Linked DNA regions of Homo sapiens. The protein of the gene in region 1 purifies or fractionates together with the protein of each later gene. This does not show direct contact. Each region holds a gene or a part of one and is shown in the gene's direction. Other genes may lie near its edges. The genes, in order: SERPINA4, FDFT1, NGLY1 and GNPTG.

Evidence for each region.
Region 2: the proteins of SERPINA4 (region 1) and FDFT1 purify together in Homo sapiens (affinity purification with mass spectrometry, with the first as the bait; one large-scale study listed by BioGRID). This does not show direct contact.
Region 3: the proteins of SERPINA4 (region 1) and NGLY1 purify together in Homo sapiens (co-immunoprecipitation; one large-scale study listed by IntAct). This does not show direct contact.
Region 4: the proteins of SERPINA4 (region 1) and GNPTG purify together in Homo sapiens (co-immunoprecipitation; one large-scale study listed by IntAct). This does not show direct contact.

What each region holds. Positions count from the first base shown.
Region 1 is NC_000014.9:94,560,077-94,564,241, forward strand, and holds the start of SERPINA4 (kallistatin isoform 2 precursor), read left to right. Parts: upstream 1-1,365; 5' UTR 1,366-1,418; exon of another isoform or gene 1,419-1,639; coding exon of another isoform or gene 1,640-1,733; intron 1,734-3,389; coding exon of another isoform or gene 3,390-3,406; coding exon 3,407-4,055; intron 4,056-4,165. UniProt on the Homo sapiens protein: Inhibits human amidolytic and kininogenase activities of tissue kallikrein.
Region 2 is NC_000008.11:11,822,357-11,827,485, forward strand, and holds part of FDFT1 (squalene synthase), read left to right. Parts: intron 1-3,667; coding exon 3,668-3,859; intron 3,860-5,129. UniProt on the Homo sapiens protein: Catalyzes the condensation of 2 farnesyl pyrophosphate (FPP) moieties to form squalene. Proceeds in two distinct steps.
Region 3 is NC_000003.12:25,772,296-25,777,424, reverse strand, and holds part of NGLY1 (peptide-N(4)-(N-acetyl-beta-glucosaminyl)asparagine amidase), read left to right. Parts: intron 1-5,129. UniProt on the Homo sapiens protein: Specifically deglycosylates the denatured form of N-linked glycoproteins in the cytoplasm and assists their proteasome-mediated degradation. Cleaves the beta-aspartyl-glucosamine (GlcNAc) of the glycan and the amide side chain of Asn, converting Asn to Asp.
Region 4 is NC_000016.10:1,354,153-1,359,281, forward strand, and holds part of GNPTG (N-acetylglucosamine-1-phosphotransferase subunit gamma precursor), read left to right. Parts: intron 1-5,129. UniProt on the Homo sapiens protein: Non-catalytic subunit of the N-acetylglucosamine-1-phosphotransferase complex, an enzyme that catalyzes the formation of mannose 6-phosphate (M6P) markers on high mannose type oligosaccharides in the Golgi apparatus.

The sequences.
Region 1 (4,165 bases):
GCACCACATTCTGCTCTAGCGCGTGGTACAGCAGTAAGCAAAGCAGCAGCTGCTATTCCGGTGGCAGGAAAAGTCTGTCCAAGTGGAGAAGCAGCAGATGCTGGGAAGGAATATGGGCTTCATGTTCAGTGGCCACGGAGCAGACCCTGACTCTGGAATCTGAGCTAACAATGTCTCCGGGCTTACATTTTCTCATGTGTAAAATGGGCCAAGCTTAGTATACCTAGAGTGTATAGGCAAGGGAAAGAGAGAGATGAGTGAGGGAAAGCGAGAATCCACTGAGACAGTAGCTCTCACTTTGCCTGACCTGCTAGCTTCCTCTCTTGTCCTGGTGTTGACCCATTTTGGACCTCAGGCCAGCTGGCTCCAGGGCTGTGCTTGTGCCTGCTCTGCCATCCCCATGTCTACATCGCTCAGGGCTCCCAGCCCACTGTGCTGCTCAGTGGTGTATATTTCACTTACCTTAAGGCCCAACGACTTGGAAACACATCCAGAAAGTCTGCTAGAGGATGCCTGAATGGTCAAGGTCATCTCAGTCAGGGCACCCAGGGCCACATTGCTCCCTGCAGTCCTTCCCCACATAGCTTGAGAAATGGCTGCCCCAGGAGGGTGCAAGGGTGCAAGGGTGCAGGGGTTCACTGATTACTGGGGAGAGAACAAGTTCAATTCCATGGTTAAAGAAGAAAAATGCAAATTGAATACCTGGCCCAAGGAGGTTCCTGGTCCCACCCCATGCCACCCTTGCCCTGGGATGTACTCTCCTTATGGTCTGACCTATGAGATCTCAGTGGACTCTATCCTCAGAAATCACAGAGTCCAGGATTGCAAACTGGAGGCCCTGCTGTGAGGCCCTGCCCACAGGTGGGTCTTGCCTGGCCTGTAGAGAGCTGGCTCTCTCACTTCCACACATCCCCACCATTCCCCACCGTGGCACCATGGAGTCTTCCTTACCTGATCTAGGAAGGCGGCGCTGGAGCTTGCTGCCCCCTGTCTGATCCAGCCCCTCATGTTGTAGGAGGGAGGTGGGCGACTGAAGCTCAGAGAGGGAGTAAATGAGCTCAACTTCACACAGCTAGTGAGGGGCTGGTTGGAGACCAGATTTTCCAAGTGGTTCCCCGGGCCCTCGGGGAGCAGCAAGGGCCAGGCGAACCTCCATGCACTGCACAAACATGAAGAAGTGAACCCTCTTGGGGTTCCCCAGGTGGGAAGTGGGGTGTCTTCTTGGGAGGGGGTGAACCAACTTCTGGTGAGTTTTCCTTGTTGAGGCAATGCTGCACCCGTAGCCTGTTTGTTAATAATTACCTGGTCGGGAGAGAGTGGGTGGTACTGAGAAGGCCTGGTTTGACCAGTCCTCCTGGGCTTGATAAGACAGAGCTGAGACAGCCACCCAGGGGGTCCACTCCAGGACAGACTGTGCCGTGAGTAACCCCCTGAGACAATGGAGACGAGAGACTCTAGAGGGAGGGTGACCAACTGTTCCACTTTGCCCAAGACTGATAATTCTTCTGGGATATATTTTCAGTGCTAAAACCAGGAAAGTCCCAGGCAAGCTGGGACACTTTGTCACTCTTGCTAGAGGTGAGAAATACTCAGGCTAGAAAGGCCCCGACTTAGGGTCCATGGGCACTGGTGGGTGACTATGCCCGGAGACCCAGAAAAGCCTCCCCCAGGGACACACAGCTGGTACAGGGCGGCACTGACTGAGGGCCAAGGTCTTCTGGCTGCCAATCCAGGTGATCTTGGGGAGCTCATGCCGGAGGGGAGGTGTGTCTGTGAGTGATGCGGTCCTATGTATGTTTCTAAATGATCCCTCCAACTGCTGAGTGGAGAACAGAGAGCAGAAAGACTAGGAAGCTTTCTGCAAGGGTCTAGGTCAGGGGTCAACAAACCACAGCTTGTAGGTCAAATCCGGCCCACCGCCCATGAGCTAAGAATGCAAGATGTAAAATATAAATATAAAATATAAGTGATAAGTATAAAAGATAAATATATAAAGCTATGAAAAATCAATAGAAGAACAACATTTTGTGACACAGGAAAATAATATGAAATTCACATTTCAGTGTCCGTAAGTGAAGTTTCACTGAAACACAGCCACGCCTCTTCATGCATGTCCGGTCTGTGGCTGTTTCCAGCTGCCACAGCAGAGTTGGGTAGTGGCAGCAGAGACTGTGTGGTCTGCAAAACCACAGATATTACTATCTGGCGCTTTGCAGAAAAAGTTTTCTGAGCCCTGGTTGAGGATCATAGCAAAAGAGGGGGCGAGAGGCTGAAGAACCTACAGGAGAGTCTAGGAGTTGGAGACCAGCTTGGGCAGCATGGTGAGACCCCAACTCTATAAAAAATTAGCTGGGTGTGGCTGTGCATGCCTGTAGTTCCAGCTACTTGGAAGGGTGCATGCCTGTAGTTCCAGCTACTTGGAAGGGTGAAGTGGGAGGATCACCTGAGCTCAGGAAGTCAAGGCTGCAGTGAGCCATGATTACACCACTGCACTCCAGCTTGGGTGACAGAGTGAGACCCTGTCTCAAACAAACAAACAAACAACCAAACAAACAAAAAAAACCCAACCCTGCAGGTCATGGAAGTGGATTAAATGGATTTTGGGTGGATAGAAGCCTAGAAGCTTTTTGGCCTGACAACCGGATACTGGTGGGACCATTTGATGGGGCAGGAGCAGATTTGGGGGAGAAACTGGAGTATCCTTTCTTGGACAGATGTTCATTATGAAACGGGTACCAATTCTATCCCCACAACTTTGGGCAGGTCACTTATTAAACATCCATGTCCTTGTCTGTACGGGGTAACAATACAAAGACCAGTTCTACTGACCTCTACAGGGGTGGGAGGGTCAAACTAAATGGCTGAAAGTGGTTTGTAAACCATATAAAGCACTCCACAGATGTTTGTGGAACAGACCCTAAAATAAACTCTGAGGATAGCCATCCTCCATGCAAAATCACTGCACTAATGAAATCAACTCATCTGAAAGACAAGTGTGGGAGAAGCAGCACCTGAGTCTGGGGATGTGGGTTCTGGCTGGGATATGTGCTAGGTAGGTGACTTGGGTGAGTCACTTTGGGAGTCTTCATTTCCTGCTCTGTTGGGTGAGAATGGAGTCTAGTGCTGTGCAGAGCTCACACAGGTGGGAAACACAATGACATGATGGACACAAGGAGTGTGCCTTGTAAGTCTAAAACATTGCCATCCAATAGTGTTGCTGTCACCATACATGTGGAAGGTGGTGGGTGTTACATTGCCTTTCACAAGCCCATCTGCAGGAGTTGAGGGTGTCACTCACGATCTCCGGGTGCTGGCCCACTGCCAGCCTTCTCAGTAGGGCCAGGTGTTCTTCTGGGGGAATTTCCTGGGCATTCTCTTCCCTCCCATAGGCCTGAGAGTGCAGAGGATGCATCTTATCGACTACCTGCTCCTCCTGCTGGTTGGACTACTGGCCCTTTCTCATGGCCAGCTGCACGTTGAGCATGATGGTGAGAGTTGCAGTAACAGCTCCCACCAGCAGATTCTGGAGACAGGTGAGGGCTCCCCCAGCCTCAAGATAGCCCCTGCCAATGCTGACTTTGCCTTCCGCTTCTACTACCTGATCGCTTCGGAGACCCCGGGGAAGAACATCTTTTTCTCCCCGCTGAGCATCTCGGCGGCCTACGCCATGCTTTCCCTGGGGGCCTGCTCACACAGCCGCAGCCAGATCCTTGAGGGCCTGGGCTTCAACCTCACCGAGCTGTCTGAGTCCGATGTCCATAGGGGCTTCCAGCACCTCCTGCACACTCTCAACCTCCCCGGCCATGGGCTGGAAACACGCGTGGGCAGTGCTCTGTTCCTGAGCCACAACCTGAAGTTCCTTGCAAAATTCCTGAATGACACCATGGCCGTCTATGAGGCTAAACTCTTCCACACCAACTTCTACGACACTGTGGGCACAATCCAGCTTATCAACGACCACGTCAAGAAGGAAACTCGAGGGAAGATTGTGGATTTGGTCAGTGAGCTCAAGAAGGACGTCTTGATGGTGCTGGTGAATTACATTTACTTCAAAGGTGAGAGTCAGATCATTGGTATATGCTAAATCCACACCACCGCCTCCAACCCACTAATTTGTTGACTGGTTAAATATATTTTTACAAAAATGTAAGTAAAAACGTTGTGT
Region 2 (5,129 bases), on another chromosome or scaffold:
CCGAAAAGATGCTGCTACATGGTCACTACGTTAGTGTAGGTCCAAGGTCTTGGGCCTCTTAATTTTTCAAACCTCAAAACTTGACAGCAGTTATCTTTGGAACTGCTGATTTGTGCTTCCTAAGTTAACAGCATACAATGACTGCTAGAAATCAATTTCTGCATTTAAGGTGAAGTTAGCCGGGTACTATGGTTTACCTGTAATCTCAGCACTTTGGGAGGCTGAGGTGGGAGGATCATTTGAGCCCAGGAGTTAGACACAAGCCTAAGCAACATAGCGAGACCCCGTCTTTCAAAAAATTAAAAAATGAGCAGGGAATTGGTGGCATGTGCCTGTGGTCCCAGCTACTCTGGAGGCTGAGGTGTGGGAGGATTGCTTGAGCCCAAGAGTTGAAGGTTGCAGTGAGCCATGATTGTGCCACTGCACTCCAACGTGGGTGACAGAGCAAGACACCATCTGAAAGAAAATAAAGTTGAAGTTAAAACTTCTGGCCAAGAACCAGCACTGGTTATGATAGTAACTCATTTTCTGTTGTGCAGATTTATTCAGGAAACTTAATTTTAGGTTGTTGAATAGAAGTTTTGATCAGATAAAATTGAATTAAAAAAAATTTTTTTTGAGACAGGGTCTTGCTGTTATCCAGGCTGGTGTGTAGTGGTGTGATCACGGCTCCCCGCAGCCTCAACCTCCTGGGCTCAGGTGATCCTCCCACCTCAGCCTACCGAGTAGCTGTAACTACAGTGCATGACACCATACCAGGCTCATTTTTGTACATTTTTTGTAGAGAGAGGGTTTTGCCATGTTGCCCAGGCTAGTCTCAAACTCCTGGCATCAAACAGTCCTCCCACTCTGGCCTCTCAAATGTTGGGATTACAGGCATGACCAGCCAATTATTTCAAGGAGTTATTTTTTTTCTTCTACTTTGGGGGAAGATGAATTATATAAGTCTCCATTTTAGGAGTATTTCTACCAAAAGAACTATTATCTTCAAATATATTTTTGGATAGTACTATAGATATACTAATTTTTTTTTAAATTTCTAGTAATTCTTTTGAAGATTTTGTATAGCTGTCCAAAGCCAATTTCTGTCTACCTAATTTCAGCAAGATTTCACTCTTTTCATGTTACTTTTGTCCCAGAACAAATTTCAAGTGCTTTCTCTTCACCTGTGCATTCTTCCCCCTGATTAGTCTCTGGCTTTGTATTACTTTCAGTCAGAGACGACTTTTTTTTTTTGAGACAGGGTCTCACTCTGTCACCCAGACTGGAATGCAGTGGCACAGACAAGGCAGCCTTGACCTTCTGGGCTCAAGCAATCTTCCTTGCCCTCAGCCTCCTGAGTAACTGGGACCACAGGCACGTTGCCACCATGCCTGGCTAATTTATTTTAATTTTTATTATTTTTGAGACAGGGTATTGCTCTGTCACCCAGGCTGGAGTGTAGTGGCATGATCAAGGCTCACTGCAGCCTTCACCTCCTGTGCTCAAGCAGTCCTCTCACCTCAGCCTCCCCATTAGCTGGGACTATAGGTCCACACCACTACACCAGGCTAATTTTTGTAATTTTTTGGTAGAGACAGGGTTTCATCGTGTTGCCTAGGCTGGTCTTGAGCTCCTGGGCTCAAGCGATTCACCTGCCTTAGCCTCCCAGGTGTGAGCCACTACACTCAGCCTTTTAAAATTTTTTACAGAGATGAGGTCTTGCTTTGTTGGCCAGGCTGGTCTAAAACTCTTGGGCTCAAGCAGTCCCCTCTCCACAGCCTCCCAAAATTCCGGGATTACAGGCGTGAACTTCGGTCATTTCCTAACTTTTACCCTTCCTAATGACACTCCAGAGCTTACCTTCTTTACTTTTGCTTCTTAAGTTAACTAATAGACAATTATTGTATGTGGATATTGCATTAAGTTGTCTTAGGATACCCTTTTCAGAGGAGGACAGCTTTTGACAAATTGCTGTCGCGGAAAAAAAAAGTATTTGGCAATTAAGAGTTGCATTTACTGAAATCTCTGTTGAGAGAGGGGAAGTTACGTTGTCTCTAAAAGAAAAACTAAAAAGAAAAGGGGAAGTTTTAGCAAAGTTGTTAAAGCCTGACACTTAAGTCATACTACCTAGTTTTGAACTCTTAGCCCCTGCCACAGACACGGCAGCCCCTTGAACCTTCCTGGGTTCAAGCGAGCCTCCTACTTCAGCCCCCTGAGTAACTGGGACCACTGGCCTGTGTCACTGTGCCTGGCTAATTTTTTTTTTTTCTCACATGGGCAATGTTGGGCAAGTTAAATCGACTTCTTTGTGCCTCAGTTTCCTCATCTGAAATGGAGATCATACTGCTATGTACCTGATACAATGTTTGTGAGGATTGAATGTGCAGAGTTCTTTTTTTCTGTTGTTGTTGTTTTGAGACGGAGTCTCACTCTGTCGCCCAGGCTGGAGTGCAGTGGCGCGATCTCGGCTCCCTGCAAGCTCCACCTCCTGGGTTCACGCCATTCTCCTGCCTTAGCCTTCTGAGTAGCTGGGACTACAGGCACCCGCCACCAGGCCAGCTAATTTTTTTGTATTTTTAGTAGAGACGGGGTTTCACCGTCTTAGCCAGGATGGTCTTGATCTCCTGATCTCGTGATCCGCCCGTCTCAGCTTCCCAAAGTGCTGGGATTACAGGCATGAGCCATCGTGCCCGGCTGAATGTGCAGAGTTCTTAAAACCGTGTCAAGAACATAAAATAGTTATTTGTTCTTTCATATAATGATGATTTTGAGGGCCTGCGGATCTTGACATGTTATCAGATTGGTCAAAAAAAGATTAAACCATAGTTGGTATTGTCCTAGTTCCTGTTACCAGAATATTCCATCTTTCATCGTTGCCTTCTCTCATAGTTTTATGTATCAAAAAGTTTATTGTAAAGCTAGGGCGGGCACGGTGTCTTGGGCTGGTAATCCCAGCACTTTGGGAGGCCAAGGCTGGCAGATCAGTTGAGGTCAGGAGTTCGAGACCAGCGTGGCCAACATGGTGAAACCCCGTCTCTACTAAAAATAAAAAATTAGCTGGATGTGGTGGTGGGTGCTTTAATTCCAGCTACTCAGGAAGCTGAGGCAGGAGAATCACTTGAACCCAAGAGGCAGAGGTTGCAGTGAGTTGAGATTGTGCCAGTGCACTCCAGCCCAGGGGACAAAGTGAGACTTGATCTCAAAAAAAAAAAAAAAAAAAAAGTTATTGTAAAGCTAGACACGGTGGTATTTGCCTACAATCCCAGCTGTTCGGGAAGCTGAGGCAGAAAGATTGCTTGGGTCCAGTAGTTTGAGTCTAACGTGGGCAAATATATGAGACTCCATCTCAAAAAAAAAATAAAAAATAAAAATAAAAAAATGTTTACTAGTTTTTTTCAGTAGCCTTTTATTATAGTAGCAGTACATGTGTATTGTAGAAATTTGGAAAATACAAGTGAAAAATAAAAACATCAAATTCCCGTCAGCCAGAGACTGCTATGAAATGTTTTGAGCACATCCTTCTTGAATGTTTTTTAAATCCTGGTATGTATATTTGTATTTTAAAATCAAAATGCATTCTTACCCATTCTCTTTTGAACCTGCTTTTTTGTAGCTAATGATCTCTAGTGTGTCCATTTCAGTAAAAATTCCATTATTAAAGTGCTTTAAAAATCGTCTCTTACAGTACTGCCACTATGTTGCTGGGCTGGTCGGAATTGGCCTTTCCCGTCTTTTCTCAGCCTCAGAGTTTGAAGACCCCTTAGTTGGTGAAGATACAGAACGTGCCAACTCTATGGGCCTGTTTTTGCAGAAAACAAACATCATCCGTGACTATCTGGAAGACCAGCAAGGAGGAAGAGAGTTCTGGCCTCAAGAGGTAACAGATTCAGGGTATTTTGGGGGAAAATAACTTTAGACATTCTCTGAAAAATCCTTTAACTCTTGTGGTTGCGGGTGACAGAAAAACAAGTCAGGCCTCCCCCAGGCAGCATAAGGGGATGTGGAAAATAGGATAGCTTGACATGAGTTTGCTTCAGGTAGACTGGCTGACTCCCAGGATTCACACCACGTAATCAGTATATTCAAGCCTTGCTGTCCTTGATTTCTTTCAGACGGTCTTTCTCCAAGTGGTGGATATGGTAACAACCCATGTGCACTAGCTTAACAAAAAGTTCTTAGGAATGGCTTTGTTCGGCCTGGCGCAGTGGCTCATGCCTGTAATCCCAACAGTTTGAGAGGCCAAGGTGGGCGGATCACCTGAGGCCAGGAGTTCGAGACCAGCCTGGCCAACATCGTGAAACCCCGTGTTTACTAAAAAATACAAAAATTAGCCGGGCGTGGTGGCAAGGGCTTGTAATCCCAGCTACCTGGGAGGCTGAGGCAGGAGAATCGCTTGAACCCAGGAAGCAGAGATTGCGGTGAGCTCAGATTGTGCCACTGCACTCCAGCCTGGGCGACAGAGTGAGACTCCCTCTCAAAAGAAGAGGAAGGGCTTGGTTCTTCTGCTCAGCCCTGAATCAGTTACTGTTGCTACACAGCTGAGTTCTCTGGCCTCGCCTGGATTACGTCTACACAGTACACACAGAATGGATTTCCCCCAAAGAAAGAATTCTGCAGCAGGAAGGGGAAAGGGATGGCAGGTAGACAAAAACTCCAGGTGTCTGTAATAAGGGACAGGGTCGATCTTTAATTAAAACATGGACAGGGAACAGAAAGCTTTTGATACTGATTTTGTTCAGAAGGAAAGTAGAAAATTTTATGACTGTTCCCTGAATTTATTCCAGCATTTACCTTTTGCTTTCCATAAAAGTGTTTCCTGCAGCCAAGTACTTTAAAGTTTTAAAAAGACGGGTGAGGCTAAGTGTGGTGTCTCATACTTATAATCCCAGTGCTGAGGCCAGGAGTTCAAGACCAGCCTGAGCAACACAGCAAGATACCATCTCTATAAAAAATTGTTAGAAAATGATTCTGCTGAAAGAGCAAAAATAAAAATTAAAGAAAGTAGAAAAAATAAAACTAAATTTAAAAGATTAACTGGGCATGTTGGCATGCACCTGTATTCCTAGGTATTCGGGAGGCTAAGGCACAAGGATCCCTTGAGCGCAGGAGCTCAAGGTTGGATTGAGTTGTAATCACACCACTGCACT
Region 3 (5,129 bases), on another chromosome or scaffold:
TGGGAATTTTTTTTTTTTTTTTTTTTTTTGAGATGGAGTTTCGCTCTTGTTGCCCAGGCTGGAGTGCGGTGATGCAATCTCAGCTTACCACAACCTTCGCCTCCTGGATTCAAGCGATTCTCCTGCCTCAGCCTCCTGAGTAGCTGGGATTAAAGGCATACGACAGCACGCCTGGCTAATTTTGTATTTTTAGTAGAGATGGGATTTCTCCATGTTGGTCAGGTTGGTCTCGAACTCTTGACCTCAGGCGATCCGCCCGCCTTGGCCTCCCAAAGTATTGGGATTACAGGCGTGAGCCGCCGTGCCCAGCCTGGAAAGTTTTAAGTAGGGAAAAATATTTTTGAAGATTATTCTAGCTTGCTGTAAAGAGAATTCCTGGAGGTGGTGGGATGGGGACAAGGGATGAAGCAGGGAGACCGGTTAGAAAGCTTATTACATTAGTCTAAATAAGAAATGGTAGTGGTTTGTATAAAGTCCATGAAGGCAGGGTTTTTTGTCATTTCTGTTCCCTGTGTTGCTAGCTCCTGGAATAATGCTGGTGCATTACAGATGTTAGGTACTCAATAAAGATTTGTTGAATTAAGTACTGATGGTGGAGATGGAGAGAAGTAGATGGATCCAGGATTTCTTTTTGTGACAGAATCAACAGGACTTACTGGTGATTTAGATGTAAGATATAAGGGAAAGGAAGGAATCGGGGACTTACCTATGTTTTGGTTTAAGCAACTAATTGGATGGGAGTATCATTAATTGAGATAGAGAAGCCTTGGAGAGTAGCAGGTTTTAGGGGAGAAACTAACACCTGTCTTTGGACAATTGTGACCAATTTGCTGTTAAATATTCAAGTAGAGAAGCCAAGTAAGCAGTTGGCTATATGAGTTTACAACCCCAAAGGAGAGATTAGGCAGGGGATATAAATTATGGTGTCATCTGATTATAGATGATACAAAGGTATCCGAACATAAAGAATTTAAAATTCCTTGTTCAAGGAAATGCCAATTTTCAAGATTCAAATTGGTTGGGAAAATTGAGTAAATGACAACGGAAGACTCTACCCATTTCTCATGTCGAAGTGTCACATATTCGATAGAATTAGATTTGTCTTTCATTCAGCAAATATTTGAGTGCCAAGTAGGGTAGCCAGCCATTCCAGTTTGCTCAGTACTGTCCTGGTTTTAGCAATGAAAGTCCCACATCCCAGAAAACCCCTCGGTCTCAGGCAAACCAGTGTTGGTCACTGCAGTGCCAAATAACAGGCCACACTGAGACTTGCAGAAGTATTTGATGCAAATGGAGTCACAGTCTCAGAAAAGATTAACAGGTTTTGATATGACTAATTTATACTTAAAGTTTCTGTTCGGCTTTAGACATCACACCTCAGGACTTGAACTCTACCACCAAAAAGAAAGTTGGTGGACTTTTTAAAGAATAATTATATGAATACATAATAGTTGTACATTATGGGGTACAGGTGATATTTTGATGCTAGCATACAAATGTGTAATGAACATATCTGAGTAATTGGAACATCCATGATCTCAAACATTTATCATCTCTTTGTGTTAGAAACATTCAAAATTCTGTCTTCTAGCTATTTTGAAATATACAATGAATTGTTTTTAACCGTAGTCACCGTATTGTGCTATAGAACATGAGAAATTATTCCTCCTATTTAACTGTAATTTTGTGCCCATTAACCAATCTCTTTCTATTGCCCAGTCCCTTCTATCCCTCCAAGCCTTTGGTAACTGCCATTCCACTCTTCTTTATTTTTTTAAATTTTTATTTAATTTTGTAATATCTTTTTACAATCACTCTTTTCTTCTATGGGATCAATTGTTTTAGCTCCCACATATGAGTGAGAACATGTGTTATTTGTCTTTCTGAATTCTGGCTTATTTTACTTAACATAATGTCCCTCCATTTCCATCCATGATGATGCAAATGACAGGATTTTGTTCTTTTTTATGGTGGAATAATATTCCGTTGTGTATAGATACCACATATTCTTTATCCATTCATCTATTGATGGACAATTAGGTTAATTCCATATCTTGGCCATTGTGAATAGTGCTGCAGTAAACATAGGAATGCAGATACCTCTTCAATATGCTGATTTTGGAAAATGGTGGATAGGAGACAGGACTAACTTGCAGCTCCCAATTGGACTGACAGAACAGTGCCTGGAAACTCACATCGTGAACTTTTGCTCTGAGAAATACTAGAGGAACATACCAGGAAAACCAAAAGAATTCACAGACCCTTTGAAAAAAGCAGCTTGCTGCTGCAAATTCCATGAGACAGAGGAAAACCTGTGAGTGCCCGAAGTGTGACGGGGAAAGTCCACTGGGGAACCTGAAAATCCAGATCACGGGAGAAGGGTTTAACCTTACCTAGAGCTGAAATTAATTTAGAGAGCTGAGTGAAATATAAAAGTAGAACAAGCAGCGAGAAGAGCCTGCAGGCACTCCTGGCCACCAAGGAAGCCATTTCTGACTTTATCTCACAGGGGTCCTTGGGGAGGGCTGCCAGTGGAATTGGGGAAAGACCACAGGGAGAATGAAACTTGCAGCTGAACACGAATTTTCCTGGACTGGGGTGTGTAGGGGAGGTGGCAAATGGGAAATGCAGATACTGCAGATACAAGCACAGAAGCCAAGGCAGACGGAGAGGGGTGAAGCCTGAAAACCCTGATTGCTTTCTCAGTGGGGAGACTTGTAGCCTGGGGCAAAATCTCAACCCTGCGTACACTGCCTGGATATAAACATGGTGCTATTGGTGGAGCATGGTGGGAGTGAGACTGGCCCTTCTGGCTGTGTGGGAGCTGGGTATGGCCTGTTATTGCTGGCTTTCCCCCACTTCCCTGGTGACCTGTATGATGCAGCAGAGATAGCTGTAATCCCCCTGGAAACATAACTCCATTGGCCTGAGAACCACACCCCCATCCGCCACAGTGGCCACAACAAGCCCAACCCAAAGAGAGTCTGCTCTCAGACATGCCTAACCCTGCCTTCACCTGATGGTCTTTCTGAGAGAAAAGACATAATCTCTTGGGAACTCTATGGCCCTGCCCACTGCCTGAGAAACCCAAATACTTATGCAGGCAACCCTAGGGCAAGCTTACATCTTCTTGATACTACTGCAGCTGATGCTGTCTTGAAAGCATCACCTTCTGGCTGGGGGCCAACCAACTGAAACCATTACAGCAACTCATTAAAGAACAACTCTGCCCCAAGAAAAGAGAATACAACAGCTAATTCCACCACCTGTAACATCCTGGCTAACCAGAGGTCTTGAGTCCAATCGCATGACAGCTTTACTACCAGCACACCTGGAATTCGAGAAAACCAACACACTAAACAAAACTGCAACCAAGGTCCCACACAGAGTCCACTTCACTCCCCTGCCACCTCCATCAGAGTAGGTACTGGTATCTATGGCTGAGACTTGAAGACAGATCACATCACAGGACTCTTTGCAGACACTCTCTAATACCAGTTCAGAGCCCAGTAGCTCTACTGGTTTGCTAGACCCAGAAGAGCAATAACAATCACTGCAGTCCAGCTCTCAGGAAGCCCCATTCCTAGAGGAAGGGAAGAGCACCACATCAAGGGAGCACCCCATGGGGCCAAAGAATCTGAACAGCAGCCCTTGAGCCCCTGATCCTTCCTCTGACATAGTCTATACCTAAATGAGGAGGAACCAGAAAAACAATTCTGGTAATATGACAAAACAGGGTTCTTTAACATCCCCAAAAGATCACACTAGCATAGTAGCAATGGATCCAAACCAAGAAGAAATCTCTGAATTGCCAGAAAAAGAATTCAGAAGGTCAATTATTAGGTTACTTAAGGAGACACCAGAGAACTTAAAGAAATTTAAAGAGTGATACAGGATATGGATGAAAAAAAATCTCCAGAGAAATAAATAGTATAAATAAAAAACAATTACAACTTCTGGAAGTGAAGAACACACCTAGGGAAATGCAGAATGCATCGGAAAGTTTCAACAATGGAATTGAACAAGTAGAAGAGAACTTCAGAGCTCAAAGATGAGGCTTTCGTATTAACCCAATCCAACAAAGACAAAAAAGAATTTTAAAAATGATCAAAGCCCCAAGGAAGTTTGGGATTATGTTAAATGACCAAACCCAAGAATAATTAGTGTTCCAGAGGAAGAAAATACATCTAAAAGTTTGGAAGACATATTTGAGGGAATAATTGAGGAAAACTTCTCTGGCCTTCCTAGAGATCTACATATCCAAATATAAGAAGCTCAAAGAACACCTGGGAAATTCATCTCAAAAAGATCATCACCTAGGCACATAGTCCTCAGGTTATCTAAAGTCAAGACAAAGGAAATAATCTTACAAGCTCTTAGGCAAAAGCATCAGATAACCTAAAAAGGAACACCTATCAGATTAACAGCAGATTTCTCAGTAGAAGCCCTACAAGCTAGAAGGGATTGGGGTCCTATCTTTAGCCTCTTTAAACAAAATAATTATCAGCTAAGAATTTTGCATCCAGCAAAACTAAGCTTCATAAATGAAGGAAAGATAGTCTTTCAGACAAACAAATGCCAAGAGAATTTGCCACTACCAAGCTAGCACTACAAGAACTGCTAAAAAGGAGCTCTAAATATTGAAATAAAACCTCGAAATACACCAAATTATAACCTCCTTAAAGCATAAATCTCACAGAACCTATAAAACAATAAATAATGAAAAAAAAACAAAGTATTCACACAACAACTAGCATGATCACTAGAATAGTACCTCACATCTCAGTACTAACATTGAATGTCAGTGGCCTAAATGCTGCACAGAATGTCAGAATGAGTAAGAATTTACCAACCATGTATTCTCTGTCTCTAAGAGACTCACTTAATACATAAAGACTAACATAAACTTAAGGTAAAGGGGTGAAAAAAGATATTCCATGCAAATGAAAACCAAAAGCCAGCAGGAGTAACTATTCTTAGACAAAACAGACTTCAAAGCAACAGTTAAAAAAAGACAAAGGGGGGCATTATTTAATGATAAAAGGGCTAGTCCAACAGGAAAACATTACAGTCCTAAATATGTATGCACCTAACACTGGAGCTCCCAAATTTATAAAACAATTGCTACT
Region 4 (5,129 bases), on another chromosome or scaffold:
CCACCACCTATCCCAAGAAGCTGGGGAGGAGGCAGGCCACTGTGTAACAGCGCAGTTCCCGACCGAACCCCTTCCAGTAGGAGAGAGGCAGCCTTGGCTAATGGGACCACGTCTTTTTGGAGGTGAGAGTCCTGGAAAGAAAACAGAATATGCTGGTCGTGGTGGTGCGTGCATGTTGCTCGGGAGCCTGAGGTGTGACGATCGCTTGAGGTCAGGAGTTCGAGACCAGCCTGGCCAACATGGTGAAACCCCGTCTCTACTAAAAAAAACCACAAAAACAAAAGTTAGCCGGGCATAGTGGTATCCTCCTGTAATCCCAGCTGCTTGGGAGGCCGAGGCTGGAGAATTGCTTGAATCCAGGAGGCGGAGGCTGCGGTGAGCTGAGATCATGCCCCTGCACTCCAGCCTGGGTGACAGAGCAAGACTTCGTCTCAAAAAAAAAAAAAAAAAAAAAAAACCCATAAAAATTTAGAAAAGAATACCTCTTCTAGTTTTCCCACCCCCATCCCCACATCAGGGCCAGTCAGGTTCACATGTGCATTTGGTTCATTATGTGTCTTTAGTGTTTTAATTTGGAACAGTTCTCTTCCCACCTTTGGATGTAAGTGGCACATTTGTTTCCCAGTTTCCTGATCTTTTTGTTTTGTTGATGGTGTTTTTCTCCAGACCATTTTTTCCTGCGCCTGTGGGGTCAGGCGTGGATAGTCCCCCGCGTCTGTAGGGCTGGGCGTGGATACTCCCCCGCGTCTGTAGGGCCGGGCGTGGATTGTCTCCCACGTCTGTGGGGTGGGGCCGGGCGTGGAAAGTCCCCCGCGTCTGTGGGGTGGGGCCTGGATACTCCCCCGCATCTGCGGGGTGGGGCGTGGATCGTCTCCCGCATGTGCGGGGTCGGGTGTGGATGGTCTGCCGCGTCTGCGGGGTCGGGTGTGGATGGTCTCCCGCGTCTGCGGGGTCGGGTGTGGATGGTCTCCCGCCTCTGCGGGGTCGGGTGTGGATGGTCTCCCGCGTCTGTGGGGTCGGGTGTGGATCGTCTCCCGCGTCTGTGGGGTCGGGTGTGGATCCTCTCCTGCGTCTGTGGGGTCGGGTGTGGATATTCTACTTGTTTTTTCTGTCTTTGATGTAGCGCTCCTTCAACATCAACGTGTGAGGCGGATTGTGTGCAGTGGGTAGGAGAGTGTGGTCTGTGGAATGAGCTGAGCAGAAAGATAATCAGGCTGAGAAACTCAGGGGCGTGGTGATTGTGGCCTAGGGCTCAGAAGGTCCCCGCAGAAGAGTGTCTGCCAAGGAGAAGGAAGGGGTGGGCTTGCCAGGGCCGAGGCTGGTGGGGCTGGGCTGGGCAGTGGGCAGCTCCATGGCCTCCACCAGATGAGTCGGGAGCCTCGTCCCTTGACAGCAGGAGGAGCAGAGGTTGGTAGGTCTGTGATTTGGAGACAGTGTCCCGCTGTGGCATGGAGAGGGAATGGGGCACGGTCAGTGTGGTGGTCCTGCCAGCGCCCAGCAGAGTCCAGCATAGCCCAGCACACTGTCCAGGAGGGAGCTCTGCCTCGGTGGCGGTGGGAGGGAGCGGCCAGCTGGGCAGGACTCTGGGGCCTTGGCAGGGTCCTGGATCTGGGGAGGGGGCGGGGGAGGAGTAGAGTGGCCCCGGGATCCTGGCTAGAGAAGCCATGGCAAGTGCGGCTCCCAGCATGTGAGTTGCAGGGGTCAGGCTGGGAGCTTGCTTTCGGCTGGGGCCGGGCTGGGTCTGCCAGGCAGTCCCTGGTGCTTGGAGAGGGTCACGGTGGGCACAGGACTCACCAGGGGGTGCGTGAGGCCGGAGGGTGAGGGTGAGGTCCCCGGTGAAGTTCTTGGTGGCGTGTGGGGGTTGTGGAGGTTGGGAGGGTACTGGGACCAGGTGTGGGGCCGGGCCAGGGAGCAGCGTGGGAGGGAGGACCACCCTTGAGAAGGGATTGTCACCAAGAGACGCAGCCCTAGGGGGAGTGCTGCCCACCGAAGCCTGACCGGGGCAGAGGGGAAACGGAGTCCAGGCTCAGCCAAGCTGATGGGCCTTGAGCTGTGGCCTCGGGTGCAGGGACAGCTGGCAGTAAGGCCACCTGGGCCCGCGGGAGCCAAGGGCACCGGCGAGTGTCCTGGCCATGCAGGCCGTGAACACGGAGCCTGCAGGGGACGTGCGGGTGAAGCAGGAGCAGAGGAGAAGCCTCCCGGCAGGGGTGGTGGCATTTGGGGGTGGTGGTATTTGGGGGTAGAGACTCCCGCTCAGGTATGGCTGTGTCTGGCCCAAGAGGCGTGGAGGGGCCAGCCCCCACCTGTCTCAGGAGGACAGGCTGCTGAAACCTGAGGGCCAGGCGGAGGGGAGGGGCCGTGGCCGGGGTTCTGGTGTGGGCCAGCAGCAGAGGACCTGGGGTACTGGGCACTGCCAGTTGGGGGCTTGTGGTACCATCCCCTGCGGGAGGCTGCACCTCAGCCAGTAGGAGTCCACTGAAGCTGTGGACAGCACCCAGGCAGAGGCCTCCTCCCAGCTGGGGAGCCAGGCCAGGCCCCGCTGCCCTCACACAGTCCTGTTTAGACGGATGGCCCTGCAGGTGCAGAGCTAAGCCCGGCGCCCACGCCCCTCCTGGGGTGTCTCCAAGCAGTGTCTGCCTGGGGCAAGCCTGGGAACGTGAGTTCCCAGGACACAGGAGCTTGACCAGCCACCCTCCCAGCGGGAGTGTGAGAGCGGGAATCTGCGGGCGGGGGTCTGCGGGCGGGAGTGTGCGGGCGAGAGTGTGCGGGCGGGGGTCTGCGGGCGGGAGTGTGCGGGTGGCGGTCTGCGGGCAGGAGTCTGAGTGGCAGATGGGTGAGGGACACATCAGGGTCTCTGGGATGGCTCCAAAGGCTTCCCTATGTGCCTGTTGGGCAGGGCCCTAGGGCCAGACTGGAGGGACCAAGCCCAAGCACCCCAGGCTGTGGGACAGCAGGTGTGACAGGGCTGAGGTAGAGCCCCCAGCGGTCAGGCTGGGAGGACAGTGGGTGAGCCTGGGAGTAGGGGCCACCCAGATGGTATTTGACAAGGAAGGACCAGGACCTTTCTATATCCACAGCCCCTGTCCCCTGAGCAGGGCAGCCTGGCCATCTTGGTCTCCATCTGTCTTGGGAGGGGACAGCCCCAGGGGTGAGTGGAATGTCAGGGAACAGAAGGCCAGGCCGGGCCAGCACCCCAGAGGTCTCAGTGGCATTAGCCTCTGCCCTCCGGGGGCGGGGGCCAGGCTGAGGGTGGCCCCAGTGTGGCATCTGGCTCCTGGGCTGGCCAGATTCCCAGGGAACAGTCACCCAGCACCTCGTGTGTATTTCGACTTTATTATTATTATTATTATTATTATTAGAGCCGAGTGTCGCTGTGTCGCCCAGGCTGGAGTGCTGTGTCGCCCAGGCTGGAGTGCAGTGGCGCGATCTCGGCTCAGTGCCAGCTCCGCCTCCCGGGTTCACGCCATTCTCCTGCCTCAGCCTCCTGAGTAGCTGGGACTACAGGCGCCCGCCACCATGCCCGGCTAATTTTTTGTGTTTTTAACAGAGACGGGGTTTCACCGTGTTAGCCAGGACGGTCTCGATCTCCTGACCTCGTGATCTGCCCGCCTCGGCCTCCCACAGTGCTGGGATGACAGTCATGAGCCACCGCGCCTGGCCTCGACTTTATTATTAATACGGTAAAACTACAGAGAGTTTGAAACATCAGTCTGGGGCGTCCTCCTCTAACCAGTGCACTTGCTGCTGCAGCGCAGGCCCTTCAGGGGACGGGGATGGGGGCCAGTCCCCTCCCTGCCTCCACGGCCCAAGCCCCAGCCTTCCCCACAGTCCTGGAGGATGGCCCGTGGCTGACAGTCTCGGTGGGCGCTGTGTTAAGGTGGCGTCCCCAGCCAGGTCCCGACTCCCCAGCTTAAAGAACAGGGTGGCTGCTGTGGCTTGACTCACGAGTTGCCACTGGCCTTGATGTGTACACGCCCTTGCTCTAGCACTGCCTGGGGCTGGCCTGGCTGGAGGGTAGGGACGCTGCACGCCTTCCCTCTTCCCCCAGGCGCTGGTGACACTGCCCTGCAACCGTCAGCACCATCATCTCCACAACTTGCTCTGTCCCCTTCAAACCCTGACTCCCAGCTGCCCCGCTCCCCCAGCCCCGGCACCCACCATTCTGCTGTCTCTGAACTTGGCTATTCATAGACGTCACATAGGTGACTCATAACTGTGTGCGACCTTTTGTGTCTGACCAACTCCTCTTGGCACAGTGTCCCCAAGGTCCCCCAGGCTGGAGGCTCTCAGTGCTTCCTTTTTATATGGCTGAGGACTGTTCCACTGCAAGGACAGACCACGTTGTTGTTTACCCGTCATCTGTCCATGGACACTGGAGTGGCTTCCACCCTCTGCCTGGGAATAGGCTGCTGTGAACTTGGGTGTAAATATTTGAGTCTCTGCTTCCAATTTCTGAGAGTAGCTTTGCTGGATCTTATTAGAATTCCATGTTTAGCTTTTTGAGGAACCACCAAACTGTTTGCATAGTGGCTGCACCGTTTCCCATTCCAGCCAGCATTGCACGAGGGGTCCAGTTTCTCCACATTTTCACCAACACTGTTTTTTGCTAACAGCCATCCTAGTGGGTGTGAAGCGGTACCTTAGGGTTGTTTTAATTTGCATTTCCCTAATGATCAGTCATGTGGGATCTTTTCAGTTGCTTATGGTGTTTGTCCTTTTTTTTTTTTGAGATGGAGTCTCACTCTGTGGCCCAGACTGGAGTACAGTGGCGCCATCTTGGCTCACTGCAAGCTCTGCCTCCCAGGCTCAGGCGATTCTCCTGCCTCAGCCTCTCAAGTAGCTGGGATTACAGGCGTGAGCCACCACACCTGGCTCATTTTTATTTAGTAGAGACGGGGTTTCACCATGTTGGCCAGGCTGGTCTCAAACTCCTGACCTCATGATCCGCCTGCCTCGGCCTCCCGAAGTGCTGGGATTCCCGGCTTCTCTGCCCATTTTTAACTTGAGTTTATTGTTGGGCTGTAGTTCTGTGTTCTGGATGTGAGTCTCTTACATACGTGGTTTGCCAGTGTTTATTTTCTCCCATTCTGTGGGTTGTCTTTTCACTCCCTTGATGGGTTTGTTTTTTT